Linked DNA regions of Homo sapiens. The protein of the gene in region 1 purifies or fractionates together with the protein of each later gene. This does not show direct contact. Each region holds a gene or a part of one and is shown on either strand. Other genes may lie near its edges.

What was found. Proteins that work in one complex are often made in the same cells at the same time.
Region 2: the proteins of PCDHA9 (region 1) and MLYCD purify together in Homo sapiens (affinity purification with mass spectrometry; 2 studies listed by BioGRID and IntAct, with this or other methods). This does not show direct contact.

What each region holds. Positions count from the first base shown.
Region 1 is NC_000005.10:140,850,567-140,859,629, forward strand, and holds part of PCDHA9 (protocadherin alpha-9 isoform 1 precursor), read left to right. Parts: coding exon 1-323; coding exon of another isoform or gene 324-458; exon of another isoform or gene 459-3,593; intron 3,594-5,330; exon of another isoform or gene 5,331-5,482; coding exon of another isoform or gene 5,483-8,017; exon of another isoform or gene 8,018-9,063. Other genes in the region: PCDHA10 (protocadherin alpha-10 isoform 1 precursor), read left to right, coding at 5,483-7,870. UniProt on the Homo sapiens protein: Potential calcium-dependent cell-adhesion protein. May be involved in the establishment and maintenance of specific neuronal connections in the brain.
Region 2 is NC_000016.10:83,908,477-83,916,114, forward strand, and holds part of MLYCD (malonyl-CoA decarboxylase, mitochondrial), read left to right. Parts: intron 1-3,741; coding exon 3,742-3,891; intron 3,892-6,479; coding exon 6,480-7,013; 3' UTR 7,014-7,638. UniProt on the Homo sapiens protein: Catalyzes the conversion of malonyl-CoA to acetyl-CoA.

The DNA of each region.
Region 1 (9,063 bases):
TGACGCTGGTGGATGTCAACGTGTACCTGATCATCGCCATCTGCGCGGTGTCTAGCCTGTTGGTTCTCACGCTGCTGCTGTACACTGTGCTGCGGTGCTCGGCGATGCCCACCGAGGGCGAGTGCGCGCCTGGCAAGCCGACGCTGGTGTGTTCTAGCGCGGTGGGGAGTTGGTCGTACTCGCAGCAGAGGAGGCAGAGGGTGTGCTCTGGCGAGGGTAAGCAGAAGACCGACCTCATGGCCTTCAGCCCGGGCCTTTCTCCTTGTGCTGGATCTACAGAGCGAACGGGAGAACCCTCTGCTTCCTCAGATTCAACTGGGAAGGTGGGTTTTTCTAGCATTTTATTTATTTATATAATTTTTTTTCTTGAAAGATATTATCGATTACTCCCAGGGGCCGTTCAAATAGTTTTATTCATTTTTCTAGAAATCCAGCAGATTTTTTTTCTGATAAAGTAAACCCCTTAACATTGGAGCCGACTTTGTCTTGACTTCTAGTGAGAATTATAAACTGTATATTAAATAGATATTTTTTGGGTGCTGAATCAATTTTATTTAAATTTGTGATTAAAGTGACATTGAATTTCTGATGCTATGCTGCCATAACACTTGAAAACCAATTTAGTTGTTAGTCATTCATTAAACATTAACATCACTATCATTTATTTATTGCTAAATGATGCATAGTATTTTAGTCTACTTGTATTGTTTATAAGAAACCCAAGCAAAAATATATAGCAATTGTTACCTTGTTAAGTTTGTAGTTCTCTACATTTCTCTGGATGGAGACTGTGAACATCTGATTGTTCAGCAACCTTCAGTATCTATTATTTTAATAAGAAAGAAACTTCCCCTAAACTTTAGAAAACAGTTGCTCCACTTTAGGAATCAAATTATGTCAATAAATGTTATAAACACAGCCTTCATTTCAACTTATATAAAATATGTTTTAAAATGCCTGACAATGTAGATAATTCAAGAAATGTTGACTGAAATTTTGTCTACACTTAGAACATTTTTTGAAATTCAGTTTACAGAAATTGGAGAAAATGCTTTTTAAACAAGTGTTTCCTTTCTTCAAGAAGACATTCTCCTTTTAATTGAAATTTTCTCCATTCAGTGATAAAATGATCAGCCATGTGAAGATTCGAAACTTCGAGTTCTTTTGAAATTCAGAGTCTGTAACTTAAAACATTACCCTTATGAATTTAGATGAGAATTCACTTGTTCTGTCAGTAATCCATAAGACAGAAATCTGTTTTTTTAAAAATATCTTTTTCTCCTCTCAGCTCATACATAACACAAGGCAGAAATCTGGATATGAGATTTGCCTCTTTAATGTCACTACATGTTATGTTTCCTGAATTGTAGTATGTGACTTTCAAAATGGTGGTTTTCCACACTCTACCTTTAGTGCAAGCTATTTGTTTGTTTTCTAATTTATAGTTTTAAAAACTTCGCTTATTGAGTTTTTGTTATGTGGTTTATATTTTTCTTTCTCTTTCAGCTATTTTATTTAATATTGTGTCAGATATTTTACAAGGTATGACCTAATTAAAAACTCAGTAGAGAAAGATCAGAATGGCCTTGAGAATAGAGCCACAAAAATAACTATGAAAATGCCAGTAACGTTTATTTAAAACAAAATATTTTAATTTTTAAATTTTCCCTTAAAACACACTTTTGGAATATGCTACAATATTACATGTTTTTTGTCTTTTTATTTTTCTGAGACGGAGTCGTTTTCTGCCACCCAGGCTGGAGTACAGTGGCATGATCTTGGCTCACTGCAACGTCTGCCTCCTGGGTTCAAGCAATTCTCCTGCCTCAGCCTCCTGAGTAGCTGGGATTATAGGCACATGCCACCGCGCCCAGCTAATTTTTGTATTTTTAGTAGAGATGGGGTTTCATCATGTTGGCCAGGTTGGTCTCGAACTCCTGACCTTGTGATGCTCCCACCTCGGCCTCCCAAAGTGCTGGGATTAAAGCTGTGAGCCACTGTGCCAAGGCTTTTTTATTTTTTTTTTTTGTCATTTTCTTTCAAAACTTGAGTGGTCTCTGAGCTCCTGTCATTAAACCTATCTATATCTGTCTATCAGCACAACTCACCTTGAATATAGTCTTATACTTTCAAGTATCTTTGTCTTTGCACGTTTTTCAAGTTTCATGTGCCATTTAAACTTGGACCCAGGTATCTGATTATTTGATGTGAATAGAGGGATGCTACAGATGTCATTTGTCTCCCGCCCTAAGTCCTCCAGTCTCCTTAGAGCTAGTACTTACTAAGCATTTACTATGTCATCAATAATCATAAAACGTATTTTTTTTTTTGAGTCAGAGTCTCGCTCTGTTGCCCAGGCTGGAGTGCAGTGGTGCCATCTTGGCTCACTCCAAGCTCCCCCTCCCGTGTTCACGCCATTCTCCTGCCTCAGCCTCCCGAGTAGCTGGGACTACAGGCGCCTGCCACCATGCCCGCCTAATTTTTTTGTATTTTTAGTAGAGATGGGGTTTCACCGTGTTAGTCAGGATGGTCTCGATCTCCTGACCTCATGATCCTCCCGCCTCAGCCTCCCAAAATGCTGGGATTACAGGCGTGAGCCACCGCGCCTGGCCTAAAATGTGTTCTTTATTATTGACGGCTGTATTGATGGGATTGGTAATTTAGTCCTTCATATTAATCTCTATTCTCTCTCAGAGTACAAGCTCTCATCATATGCAAATTCTCAGAAGGGCTGTGAACACCTTAGTAATAAATTTATCTTTTGAGGTCATTAGCAAACATGAACTCACAGGGATCCAGAGATGGTAAAATTCAAAACAGCCTGTCAAGTTCAAAACAGAGAGGTGAAAGCAGAAGAGACACTTTCCTATTTTGCCTAATAGGTCTCCTTATATGCATCTGTAGTTAACATTCCTCAATTCAAGTTAGAATCATGAAACAATAATGAAGCTCCTCCTATGTCTCTTTTCAAGTTGTAATTACTATATAGGAAAAACTAAGTTGTCACCCAATATCTTAGACACTTTGAGAGCAAAGGGGGTGCTGTAAATAAGTATACAAGATCACAGACCTAAATTGAGCCTGTTCCAGACAAATTGGGGCCTATGGTCAACCTATCCTTAGACCTGCTAACGCATTAGCATTAGCAGCACCTAAGTCCTCATTGAATGTTCTGGTTCAAGGCTCCACCTCAGAAATTCTGAAATGGGTAGTAAGAGCAAATTTTCATTTTAAAGCACACCTGAGATGATTCTCATACAACCGAAATTTTAGATCCATAGCCCTATTTGATACTTGACAGTGCAAGTTTCTGTAATTTAAAAAGATGTGGTGGCCTGACACCTGCAATCCCAACATTTTGGGAGGCCAAGGTGGGAGGGTCCCTTCCTTGAGCCCAGCAGTTTGAGACCAATGTAGTGAGACTCATCTCTGCCAAAAAAAAAAAATTAGCCGGGCATGGTGGCACACATCTCTAGTCCCAATTACTCAGGAGGCTGAGGCGAGAGAATCGCTTGAGCCTGGGACATTGAGGCTGCAGTGAACTGTGATGGCACAACTGCATTTCAGCCCGGGTGACAGCAAGATTCTGTCTCAAAAAAAAAAAAAAAAAGAGTAGTTTAACTACTCCCTACTTTTTATTCAATATTGGACATCTACATTGGGATATTTATGTTATCACTTGGTATAAAATGTACATTAGTAGAAATTGAGTTTAGTTTTTATTATTTTGTGCGTGGAGATGATTGATCAATGGCAAACTTATTTTACGCTCCAGATAGCTAAAACAAACGTTGATATTTTGATACATAACTCATTACATTTTAATTCAGGGTTTATAAAAAAGTAATCTCTAAAATCAGAATTTGAATGAATTTTGATGCAAGAGGCATTCCAGAGGAGTAGAGAAGTATAGAAACAGAATTTAGTAGGACACATAAACTGATGGATTAAGTGACACCCATTTCTGTCAGTTTTCTTATTCATAAATATTGTTGCTCTGTCATTCAGATTTTAATAAAAAAAGTTTAAAGTAATTGACACATTTAAAAATATTCTTTAGAAAAGTCAAAACATCATTAAATAAAATAAATTAACCCTTGCATAAGACCAATATGTCTGTTGTTAAGTTTTCCTTTCTTGGAAAGACAGAAAACTCAAGTTTTTTTCAGCAGCACAGATATATTACATTTTCATTCCTGAATATTTGATTTCAAGAACTTTGAGAGAGAAAAAAATATTTTTACTGCAAGTGGTGATGAAAAACTTCACTGACATTGATAAAATTACTAGATATATTTCAGAACTGTGTCTTTTGGGCATTTGAAAAGCGTAAATATAACAGGGTTGAAAGCATTTGCCTCTGAAAGCAGAAATAATAAATTTCTTAATTACTTTATTCAGAATTATAATTAAGATTCTTTTTGCCCGTGTAAGATATTATAAAATGAAACTTCTTGTATAAAGGATTTTTCTGTAATAGTACTTTTCTGTTTTCTTAAATACAGAAACCACCACTCTCAGCCTGTGCAGTAGCAATAATTAAGGCATTCTATAGGTAATAATTTTGCCTGATGAGCCAAATTTGGTATTGAGCCTCATGAAAACAAATGTGGCCAAATTGAGGCCTGAGAATAGTTTCCATTTATGAAGCACTCATTCTCCTTAAGGTACTATTGCAAGCACTTACTATATTATAATTCACTCAACCACCGTATTACTATTAGGCCAAAGTTATAAAATTGGAACATGAGGGAGGGAGAGGTTAAACGATTTTCCCAAGTCATGTGGCTAGTGAGTAGGATAATAGGAATCTAAATGGAGAAATGTCTGATGTTGAAGCTAATGATCTCTAAATTCTAGTGATGACTAGATCTTCGGAGTTATAAACACCTCACAGATAGTTGATGCTTGACATTAGTGTCTAAATAAACCTTATTAAATCTCAAAATAATGAGAAAGAGAAGTAAGTTAAGTGTCAGAACTTAAATGGAACTAAAGTTGTCATTTAATAAAATATTAGTATACTCAGTAGTATGCAAATATTAAGGGCATTTTGAAATTCGGCTATTGATAATCATGTGGTTAGGGAAGAAATCACTACTCTGAGAGTCTACATTTAAGAAAACATTGCACGTGGGATCAACATTTATTGTTATTAACTATAAAGAGACGTAATGTGAGGCTTTGAAAGTCCATAGACATAAAAATACGTAAAAAAAGAATTAACATATGAATGAAAGAAAAGTTGTGAACTCATGGAATCGTACTTACACCTAAAGCCACCGGATGTCGCTGTCGTCCACAAAATAGCTTTTTAGAACAAAGGCATCAGCCAGTTTCTCAAGGACTAGGAAGTAGCGTCATTCTGAGATCTCAGCCATTTCGATAAAAAATAGATATAAGAAATAGGACAGAAAATGTCAGATCGTATGTGCGTTCTAGACCGCTGATTCGTCGATTTGTAAAACAAGAGAAGGATAAGATGGTTTCCAGATGTAGCTGCCTGGGGGTCCAGTGTCTGCTGCTCTCGCTTCTTCTCCTCGCAGCCTGGGAGGTGGGGAGCGGCCAGCTCCACTACTCAGTCTACGAGGAGGCCAGACACGGCACCTTCGTGGGCCGCATCGCGCAGGACCTGGGGCTGGAGCTGGCGGAGCTGGTGCAGCGCCTGTTCCGGGTGGCGTCCAAAAGACACGGGGACCTTCTGGAGGTAAATCTGCAGAATGGCATTTTGTTTGTGAATTCTCGGATTGACCGCGAGGAGCTGTGCGGGCGGAGCGTGGAGTGCAGCATCCACCTGGAGGTGATCGTGGACAGGCCGCTGCAGGTTTTCCATGTGGACGTGGAAGTGAAGGACATTAACGACAACCCGCCCAGGTTCTCCGTAACAGAACAAAAGCTCTCAATACCTGAATCCAGACTGCTTGACTCTCGATTTCCACTAGAAGGCGCATCTGATGCGGATGTTGGAGAGAACGCATTGCTTACTTACAAACTCAGTCCAAATGAGTATTTTGTTCTTGATATTATAAACAAAAAAGACAAAGACAAATTCCCAGTGCTTGTTCTGCGGAAGCTGCTGGATCGTGAAGAAAATCCTCAGCTAAAGTTGTTGTTGACAGCAACTGATGGAGGCAAACCTGAATTTACCGGATCTGTTTCTCTGCTGATCCTGGTGTTAGATGCCAATGATAACGCCCCTATCTTTGACAGACCGGTTTATGAAGTTAAGATGTATGAAAATCAAGTGAACCAAACATTAGTAATACGGCTCAACGCTTCTGATTCGGATGAAGGAATAAACAAGGAAATGATGTATTCATTTAGCTCTTTGGTCCCACCCACGATAAGAAGGAAATTTTGGATAAACGAAAGGACGGGAGAAATAAAAGTAAATGATGCTATTGACTTTGAGGACAGTAACACTTATGAAATTCATGTAGATGTTACAGATAAGGGAAACCCACCTATGGTTGGTCACTGCACGGTCCTAGTGGAACTACTGGATGAAAATGATAATTCACCTGAGGTGATTGTCACTTCTCTGTCTCTCCCAGTGAAAGAAGATGCTCAAGTGGGCACCGTCATTGCCCTAATCAGCGTTTCTGACCATGATTCAGGAGCCAACGGACAGGTCACCTGCTCTCTGACGCCTCACGTTCCGTTCAAGCTGGTGTCCACCTACAAGAATTACTACTCATTGGTGCTGGACAGCGCTCTGGACCGCGAGAGGGTGTCGGCCTATGAGCTGGTGGTGACCGCGCGGGACGGGGGCTCGCCTCCGCTGTGGGCCACGGCCAGCGTGTCTGTGGAGGTGGCCGACGTGAACGACAACGCGCCTGCGTTCGCGCAGTCCGAGTACACGGTGTTCGTGAAGGAGAACAACCCGCCAGGCTGCCACATCTTCACGGTGTCTGCGTGGGACGCGGACGCGCAGGAGAACGCCCTGGTGTCCTACTCTCTGGTGGAGCGGCGGTTGGGCGAGCGCTCGCTGTCGAGCTACGTGTCGGTGCACGCGGAGAGCGGCAAGGTGTACGCGCTGCAGCCGCTGGACCACGAGGAGCTGGAGCTGCTACAGTTCCAGGTGAGCGCGCGCGATGGGGGCGTGCCGCCTCTGGGCAGCAACTTGACGCTGCAGGTGTTCGTGCTGGACGAGAACGACAACGCTCCCGCGCTGCTGGCGTCTCCCGCTGGCAGCGCGGGCGGTGCAGTCAGTGAGCTGGTGCTGCGGTCGGTGGTTGCGGGTCACGTGGTGGCTAAGGTGCGCGCAGTGGACGCTGACTCTGGATACAACGCGTGGCTGTCGTATGAATTGCAGTCGGCGGCGGTTGGTGCACGCATCCCGTTTCGCGTGGGGCTGTACACGGGCGAGATCAGTACGACGCGCGCTCTGGATGAGACTGACTCGCCACGCCAGCGCCTACTGGTGCTGGTGAAGGACCATGGCGAGCCGTCGCTGACGGCCACGGCCACTGTGCTTGTGTCGCTTGTGGAGGGCAGCCAGGCACCCAAGGCCTCGTCGCGGGCTTCAGTGGGCGTGGCGCCCGAGGTGGCCCTGGTGGATGTCAACGTGTACCTGATCATCGCCATCTGCGCGGTGTCCAGCTTGCTGGTGCTCACGCTGCTGCTGTACACTGCACTGAGGTGCTCGGCGGCGCCCACCGAGGGCGCATGTGGGCCGGTGAAGCCCACGCTGGTGTGCTCTAGCGCGGTGGGGAGCTGGTCTTACTCGCAGCAGAGGCGGCAGAGGGTGTGTTCTGGGGAGGGCCTGCCCAAGGCGGACCTCATGGCCTTCAGCCCCAGCCTTCCACCATGCCCAATGGTAGATGTGGACGGGGAAGATCAGTCTATTGGAGGGGACCACTCTAGGAAGGTGGGTTATTACGTTTTCATTTTCCTTTTGTGCTTTATGAATAATATTTTCTCTTACCGCATTTTCTCAAATATGTATCAGAATATTTCATTTTTGTCTACATTCCATTTATGCTTGAATATTTCTAGTGATACCTTTGTAATATAATTTATTCCAGGAGTTTTAAAATTTTTTTATCCTACCCAGTGTGTCAGCCTTTGATTGGTACTTAAATTTTTTTAAATAACAATTTATTCTGAATACACTAATATTTTCCAATACAAATATGTGATATAGGTTGCAGTTCTGACGATTTACTTTCATAATCACTTTTCGTTACAAATATTTGTGAGATTAGTACTTCATGTTATTTCATTTCCAATCTAAATTTTGATTTGATTGTATTTGCATTACCAAAAAATTCCACTGATCTATATCTCTTCAGTGAAAATGTGTTTTCCTCCATGTGTAGAATATGTGTAGCGTACCACAGCTTATACTGCCATAGTAGATTTCAATGTTCAGTGATTACAGCTTTTTCTCAATAGTGCAGTAAGTAGGTGGGCAGTTCATTGGTAAAAATTTCTTAATCTTAGCAATTAAGTTAAATGCTTTGAACTTTAAAAACGTTTTCCATTTTTATTTTAGTTGTAGTGGTACCTGTGTCAGTGTGTATTATTCACTTAGCAGAAGAAAATGTATGTTTCTTTTATTTACATAATTTTATCCAGTAGCTCTTCATTATCTGCTCCTTTATCAGCATTAGGCATTGCTTATGATATTCAGGTATTAGCTCTTTCACTTTAAGGAAGGAGTCATGCTTATGTTTAATAATGAAGAGAATTTGAACACTTTTTACTTTTGAGACTGAAAATACTTTAGTATGAATTAATATTAAAAGTTTGAGGAGAAAATAAAATTAATGTTTTCTACTGATCTGATATATTGTATAGTTTAATAGCTTCTCTAGTCATCTTAAACAGGGTTGGGTTAGATGATATAGACTCAGAAATGAAAGCTAACTTAGTTGCAGAGTGACAAAACTACACTATCAATTGTGTTTTCCTGAAATTGGTTGTTACCTGATACCCATGATTTCATTTTTAAAAAAAATTTATTAATTCTAGTGTTACCAAACACCAATGCCATGAATTTGTCATCTTGCCTATGGCTCTTAGCAATTACTTTTTTCTTTCCTTTCTCTTTGAGTATGG
Region 2 (7,638 bases), on another chromosome or scaffold:
GTTATGGAGCAAGGCGAGCATTCATCTGGCTGTGTTGATCTTAGGTTGAGATACAGTTAAAGTCTATCACAGAACATGTTTGTGAGGCAGAAAATAATTGTGAAGGAAGAAGGGACAGATACCTGATTCATACATAGTTTACCTTTACAGCTTTTGTTAAATGCCTGTGGGGAGTTTTGAAAGATACTTGATTAGAAAATTGAAAGAGGCACTCCATCCCTTATGCTTGATGTGGGCCGAGGACACTCCTTGGCGAGTGGAGGTTATGGGACTTGTGGTTGATAGCCCCGTCTGTGGCAAGCTGCTCTGCTCCTGGATGAGTTTGGCAAGAATGTCTGAAACACTCCTGCAGGCCCGTGGGGGCAGAAGAACCAGGGAGCACATTGCAGGGTCTGGAAATAGGAGTGCTAAAGATAGGTGGCAGGGAGCATGAGACCCCTGGGGCATTGCAGGTTTGCTCAGACCAAGAGGACATGAGTGGCTGTTAGGAAGCTAAGTGGATGATGGCCCATCACAAGATGAGTGCCCTAAGCAGGTGTCCTGCTGAGAAGTTAGAGAAGCTGAGTAGGGCAAATGAGCAGACATTCCTGATCACCAAGGAGAAACACATTCCCTTACAATGTTTGTGTGTGAAAGAGTCACACTCCGATGCCCTCTTGGTGGGACTAGGGGCCATTCTGACTTCTCTGAGGGCAATTTGGCAACATGGATGAAAATTCAGAATGTGCATTCCTTCTGGCCTAACAATTCCACTCCTAGGAACTTCTCCTGGGGAGATGCTCAGCCCTGAGAGTCAGATGGCTATTCCTGCAGCATTGCTGACAGTTCAAAAGGGTGGGGATGATAACCTAGGGCCCATCAGGAGAGAATGGGCTCCAGGAGGGCGCTGTAGACACATGGCGCGGCCTCGTGTACATCAGATATCTGTGCATGTATTTAAATATTGTTGTAGGTTTATATGGAAAACCAGCCTTGACTTACTCTTGAGTAGAAGTTCAGGTTTATAGAGTAGCATGGGTATGGTGTGGTCTTATGAATAATATTAATAATATCTGTTGAGTAGTGCTCTGTGCCTGTCAGTCTGTGAAGCACATTTTGTGTGTTATTGCCCTGAGCACCCTGTGATTTAGGTGGTGGTGTTGTGTTTTTTTTTTTTTTTTTTGAAGCGGAGTTTCGCTCTTCTTGCGCAGGCTAGAGTGCAATGGTGCTGTCTCGGCTCACTGCAACCTCCAACTCCCGGGTACAAGCAATTCTCCTGCCTCAGCCTCCCGAGTAGCTGGGGATTACAGGCATGTGCCACCATGCCCAGCTAATTTTTTTTTTTTTTTGTATTTTTAGCAGAGATGGGATTTCACCATGTTGGCCAGGCTGGTCTCGAACTCCCGACCTCAGGTGATCTGCCCGCCGCGGCTTCCCAAAGTGCTGGGACTATAAAGGCGTGAGCCACCGTGCCCGGCTGATATAGGTATTATTATGAGAAAACCGAGGCTTGAGGGAACGTCCGCAACTTACCCATGATCATCGAGCAAGTAAGGGCGGAACTGGAATTCAGACCCAGCTCGCATCCTGACTCTAAGGGCACGTGAGAATGTGCGTGGGTACGCAGTCCTGTGTGCATTTGTGTGCGTACCGAGAGCCTCTGAGACAGGCCTGGAAAGGTGTTCATCAAAAGGGCAGCAGCAACAGTCATGGAGATTAGATTTTGGAGTAATTGGTTATTTTTTTTTATGCATGGTTTTTTTTTTTTGCCTCTTTTTGTTTTATTCACTTAGTTTTATCAATTTTTTGTCTCTTTGACATTATACATACCTCACTTGTATAACCGAAGAAAGTTTTGTTTTTATTTTGAAAACTTAAAAAAAAGATTGCTGGGATTTTTGCATAAGGAATCACAAGATAATTTGCAGACTTCTTAAAAAACAAAGGAGAGCCCGACGCAGTGACTCGCGCCCAGAATCCCAACACCCCGGGAGGCTGAGGAGGCAGCCGGATCACCTGAGGTCAGGAGTTCCAGACCAGCCTGGCCAACATGGTGAAACCCCGTCTCTACTAAAAATACAAAAATTAGCCGGGTGTGGTGGTGTGCACCTGTAGCCCCAGCTACTTGGGAGGCTGAGGCACAAATGAGAATCGCTTGCCACTAGGCAGAGGTTGCAGTGAGCCGAGGTCGTGCCACTGCACTCCAGCCTGGGCGACAGAGCAAGACTCCATCTCAAAAAAAAAAAAAAAAAGAAAGGAGATAAGCCTGGGAGTGATGTGAAGTGAGCTCCGTCCTATGAACGACAGAGCTCTTCCATAGAGCACGGTGCAGGACAGCGGGCCCCTCTCGGGCCTCGGAGGATATGTCCTTCATGTCATGAGCTCTCCCCCTTTCCTCACAGCAGCATTTCTTCACTTTGTTGGAGTCACAGACCCTGTTAAGAATCTGGAGGGAAAAATGCTGAGGATGTTTTCCTCAGGGCAGATATGCATAGACTCACACATTCCATACACAATTTCTTTCTTTTTTTCTTTTTTTTGAGACGGAGTCTCGCTCTGTGCCCAGGCTGGAGTGCAGTGGCATGATCTCGGCTCCCTGCAACCTCCGCCTCCCGGGTTCACACCATTCTCCTGCCTCAGCCTCCGTAGTAGCTGGGACTACAGGCACCTGCCACCATGCCCGGCTCATTTTTTTTGTATTTTTAGTAGAGACGGGGTTTCACCGTGTTAGCCAGGGTGGTCTCGATCTCCTGACCTCGTGATCTGCCCGCCTCGGCCTCCCAAAGTGCTGGGATTACAGGCGTGAGCCACCGCGCCCGGCCTCCATACAATTTCAGAACAATTTCAGAAAGTTCATGGACTGACTACGAGACCTCATCTATGCAGTCTGAGCTAAACGCTCCTACTTCCAGAATCGAAGGTCGCTGGTAGAAGTTAAAATAGTTTAAATGGGTTCTTCAAAAGTAAGCTGGTTTCCCTGCTTCAAAGCAAATGAAAAGGTAGCCCCCTGCTGTTCCACTGTTATCCAGTGAGCTTTGGAGTGTTAAGGATTATGCTTCGGAGTATAAGGGATTAGAAAACGCTGCCGTGAGAATGAGAGGCAATAAACTCAGACTTCAGCTAAGCGACTTCCCAGTCTAGCTCGTTTCTTAGAATGCCTCGCAGGGATGTCTGCAAATGTGTTACCATTTAGGAAAAACAGAAATGGCACAAAACCCAAAAGGTACATGAAAAAGTCAAACAAAGGTATATTTCCTAAAAGAAAATTATATAGGACTGCTTATAGCCTCTTGAGAAATTTGAAAAACCTAGGGTTCAGAGAAAAGGAGGAAAAACAATTCAGTGGTGGGAAACGTCAGTCCTTTAGGAGAAGCTGAAGGAACTGGAGCTGTTTGGTCTCAAGGATCCGTGTGTTATCGCTGAGTGTTGGCCGGAGAGTTTATGGAGCAAGTTTTTGTTTGCACAAAGGCCTAAAAGAGACAGAAAGGGGCATACATTGCTCTTCAACAAAGTTTGCATGAAAATTTCAAGAAACGATGCAGTGCTGAGGACCCCCAGGCACGCGGTGGAGTCGCCTCCTCCAGAGAGTTTTCAAAACAGAGCAGCTTTTAGGCTCTGTAGCCTGAACCCCAGCTGGGGAGCCGAGGTCTCTTCCAGCTCCTTCAGTGCTCTGAGAATTGTCTTCTCGTCCCAGCAACAGGCTTGCCTCGTGGGCTGCAGAGCGGCCAGGCCACCCTTAGAACCATCGTTGGTGTTTTCCAGGCAATCGTGAAGGAACATCCTCCATCAGAAACAGAAGAGAAGAACAAAATCACTGCTGCGATCTTTTATTCCATCAGCTTGACCCAGCAGGGACTCCAAGGGGTGGAGCTGGGAACATTCCTCATAAAGCGAGTCGTCAAGGAGTTGCAGGTAAGCGACACGCAGGGAGCCCCGGTCACGCTTGGCTTCCGTGTGGTCAGGTCAGCGAACCTCGTGGGGTGTCAGGTGCCATGAGGGACACAGATGAAGACAGGAGCTAAAGGGAGGGGCAGGGGGTAGAAAAGGTGCCAGAGACCCCTTGGCAACTCCTAGGAGCCATGAGTCTCCCAGAGAGATGAGAATGATGCTGAGAGAGGCCTCCAACCCAGCTGCCCAGTTGACTGCAAGACGCAGTTGTATTCTGAGGTCATCAACTCTCTCTAGGGTGACCTCGTTCTGACCTGGTCAGGACACTCTGGATTTCACGTGTCATCCTGGTGTAAGTGTCACTCTGAAATGTCCCAGCCAGATGGCACAGCTGGTAGTCATCCTGCCACGCCTGTCCTCCCCCTGCCCCTGCCCACACTCTCAGGGCCTCTGACACCTGATGTGCTGTTAGCTTGGGCCTTCTCATGGCCTGTGAGGGAGTGCTGAGGTGAGACCAGACAGCTCGAAGGTAAATGCATCGGCTTTTAATCTAACTCTCCTCTCTTTGCTGCCCTGTGAAAAACATATTAACCATCCTACATCAGAAATGTTGATGTTCACTCCAGGCCTAGGCTTTCAAAAACCACCAGCCTCATCAGGGACTTGGATAAATTCCAATGAGTAGAATCTAATAATTAGGTGCGGTAGCTAGATGTTTGCTAATGACTGGCTCTGAGCAGGGTGTTCACTGTGTTGGGGGCTGCACATGGCTGCAGCAGAGGCCTTCCTTTGAGGACGACAGTGTGGAGTGGGGACGTTTACATGCTCCTAGTAAATTCATAATCAATTTCTAATTGAAGCCCTCAGGATTCAGCTGGGCGTGGGCTTCATTACCACGCCGCCATGTTTCCCCCGGGTAACAATGAGCCGTAGCTCATTCCCACAGTTTCCTCATTCCTCTGTCTTCACTGAGGGTGGTGATTAGCAGGGCGGGGTGGGGAAATGTATCAGGGTAAGGAAGGCAGGAAGAGGAGGAGCAGATCCCGGGATTCGGGGGAGTTGGGCCTTAGCCCAGCAGCTGTCCTGAGGGTGTCGCTTAACTGCCCCTGGGCGGCCAGCCTAGAAGTCCTCAAAGGGAGTCTGGAAGGGAACAAATGGCCCCTCTGCGTGGAGGCGCTCGTCAGGGTTTACAAAAGCAAAACACAGCTGGGCGCAGTGGCTCACGCCTGTAATCCCAGCCGAGGCAGGCAGATCACCTGGGGTCAGGAGTTCGAGACTAGCCTGGCGAACGTGGTGAAACCCCGTCTCTACTAAAAATATAAAAATTAGGCATGGTGGTGCATGCCTGTAGTCCCAGCTACTCGGGAGGCCGAGGCAGGAGAATCACTTGAACCTAGGAGGCGGAGATTGCAGTGAGCCAAGACTGCACCATTGCGCTCCAGCCTGGGAGAGACAGTCTCAAAAAAAAAAAAAAAAAAACAGTGGTTCGGGGTGGGGGAAAAACCCCGGGAGCTACCACGAATGCCCAACGAGAGGAACATGGTGAGGAAAATCATAATAGGCTGCTTTTTTTATATTACTCTGTGGTTAAAATCTTCTGTTTTTGAATTTTAAATGATAATGAGAAAATGCTCACGATATAAATTCATATTGCAAAATATAAAGTAAGTGTCTCACCCATGCAAAAATCGCATCAAGAAACACCAGGAGTTTATCTGAGCAGACTGTCGAGAGTGGTTTTCTCAATGTAGTGGAGTGTGATGGTTTTATTTTCTTCTGTCATTAATTTTTTCAAAAAATATCTATAGTGAGCATGTGTTACATTTATAATCAGAAAGTAGCAGATTGTTTGAAATGATCATGAGATCTCTATCTAGTTGGGACAATAACGATTGAACCGTGTCATGTGATATGGAGAGATACCCGCAGCGTCCCCCTCCTCGCCCTCTACCCCGTTCTGCACCCGCCGTGGTGTGGCCGGGCAGCTAGTCGCTCACTCACCAGTCCCTGGCCACTCGTGTGCCGAGCAGCAGAGCAGCTTCCGGGGCCTCACAGGTGGCCATGGGAGGAGCATGGTGTACGGGAAAGACAAGGCCTGCAGTGAGTAGCTGCAGTGCACCGAGCCCCACTCCCCACTGGCCAGCTGTCTGGTTTTAGGCAAGTCCCCCAACACTCTAGTCTCGGTTTTGCCGACATGAGAAGGGATGGTGGGGACAGAGACGCCCTGCCTTGGGGAGTCAGGATGCCTCCAGGGTCTGGCACACATCAGGTTCCTGATAAATATTTCCTGCTGGGTGTGGCGGCGCGAGCCTGTGGTCCCAGCTACTCAGCAGGCTGAGGCAGGAGGATGGCTTGGACCCAGGAGATGGAGGCTGCAGTGAGCCATGATGACACCACTGCACTCCAGCTAGGGCAATAGAGCAAGACCCTGACTCTAAGAGGAAAAAAAGAAAAGCTGCTTGAAAGAAGATAAACAACATGTATCAGATGTCACTCTGACCGCTACACAGCAGCATGTGAGCCGTAGGTTAAGAGGTGCTCCTCTGTTGGTAACGTACCTGCTGAATTTGTGTTTTCTCCGCCTTCCTTTCCACCCCAACCATGCTTTACAGAGAGAGTTTCCTCACCTTGGGGTGTTTTCAAGTCTGTCACCTATACCTGGTTTCACCAAATGGCTTCTGGGGCTTCTGAACTCGCAAACGAAGGAGCATGGGAGGAATGAACTCTTTACAGATTCGGAATGTAAGGAAATCTCGGAGATCACAGGTGGCCCCATTAACGAGACCCTCAAGCTCCTCCTCAGCAGCAGCGAGTGGGTGCAGTCGGAGAAGCTGGTGCGGGCGCTGCAGACTCCGCTGATGAGGCTGTGCGCCTGGTACCTGTATGGAGAGAAGCACCGCGGCTACGCGCTGAACCCCGTGGCCAACTTCCACCTGCAGAACGGGGCGGTGCTGTGGCGCATCAACTGGATGGCGGATGTGAGCCTCAGAGGCATCACCGGCTCCTGCGGCCTGATGGCCAACTACCGCTACTTCCTGGAGGAGACGGGCCCCAACAGCACCTCCTACCTCGGCTCCAAGATCATCAAAGCCTCTGAGCAGGTCCTCAGCCTAGTGGCCCAGTTTCAAAAGAACAGCAAGCTCTGACAGTAAACCTCTCCTAAAGCACAGGGCCCCGGCTAAGAAAACGATCATTTTCAGGAGGGGCCGGGAGTTATGTATCTGAAGCAGCTTTCCAAGCAAAGCCAAAGTTGACTGTGTTCTTGTCCCGCAGCCGGTCCACACTGTGAGGCCAGGCCTCAACTTCCCTCACCCTGGGCGTGACATGCACCCAGTGCAAGACGGTTGTGGGTGCGGGTGCACACAAATGAGTGGGTTGCTGTGCTGTCTCCGGAAGATTCTGTCGTTGCCCTTGGCCTGGCTCCCTGCCCGGGGCTGGTGCTGTGGTACCTACATCTTCAGGAAGCTGTGCAGCCTCTGCCATTGCCATCCCAGGGGGATCTGGCATCCTCCTAAGGACCGGGGCGCGTGGCCCAGATAAGAATAGGTGTTCCTTTGTGCTCATAAAACAGAATGCGGCGATGGTTGCTTTAGCCGTTTCTCACCATGCAATGCAGAGGGACAAAGGGCTGTGCTACACTTCCCAGTTACATTCTGAAGCTCATAAATGTATGAGAAGGTTTGTGATTTTGCACAAGGTGTGTGTAGTAAGTTAAATTGTTGAACACAAAAATGTTGCTGCTTGAGGCATAAGTTGGATAATAGGCTTTAA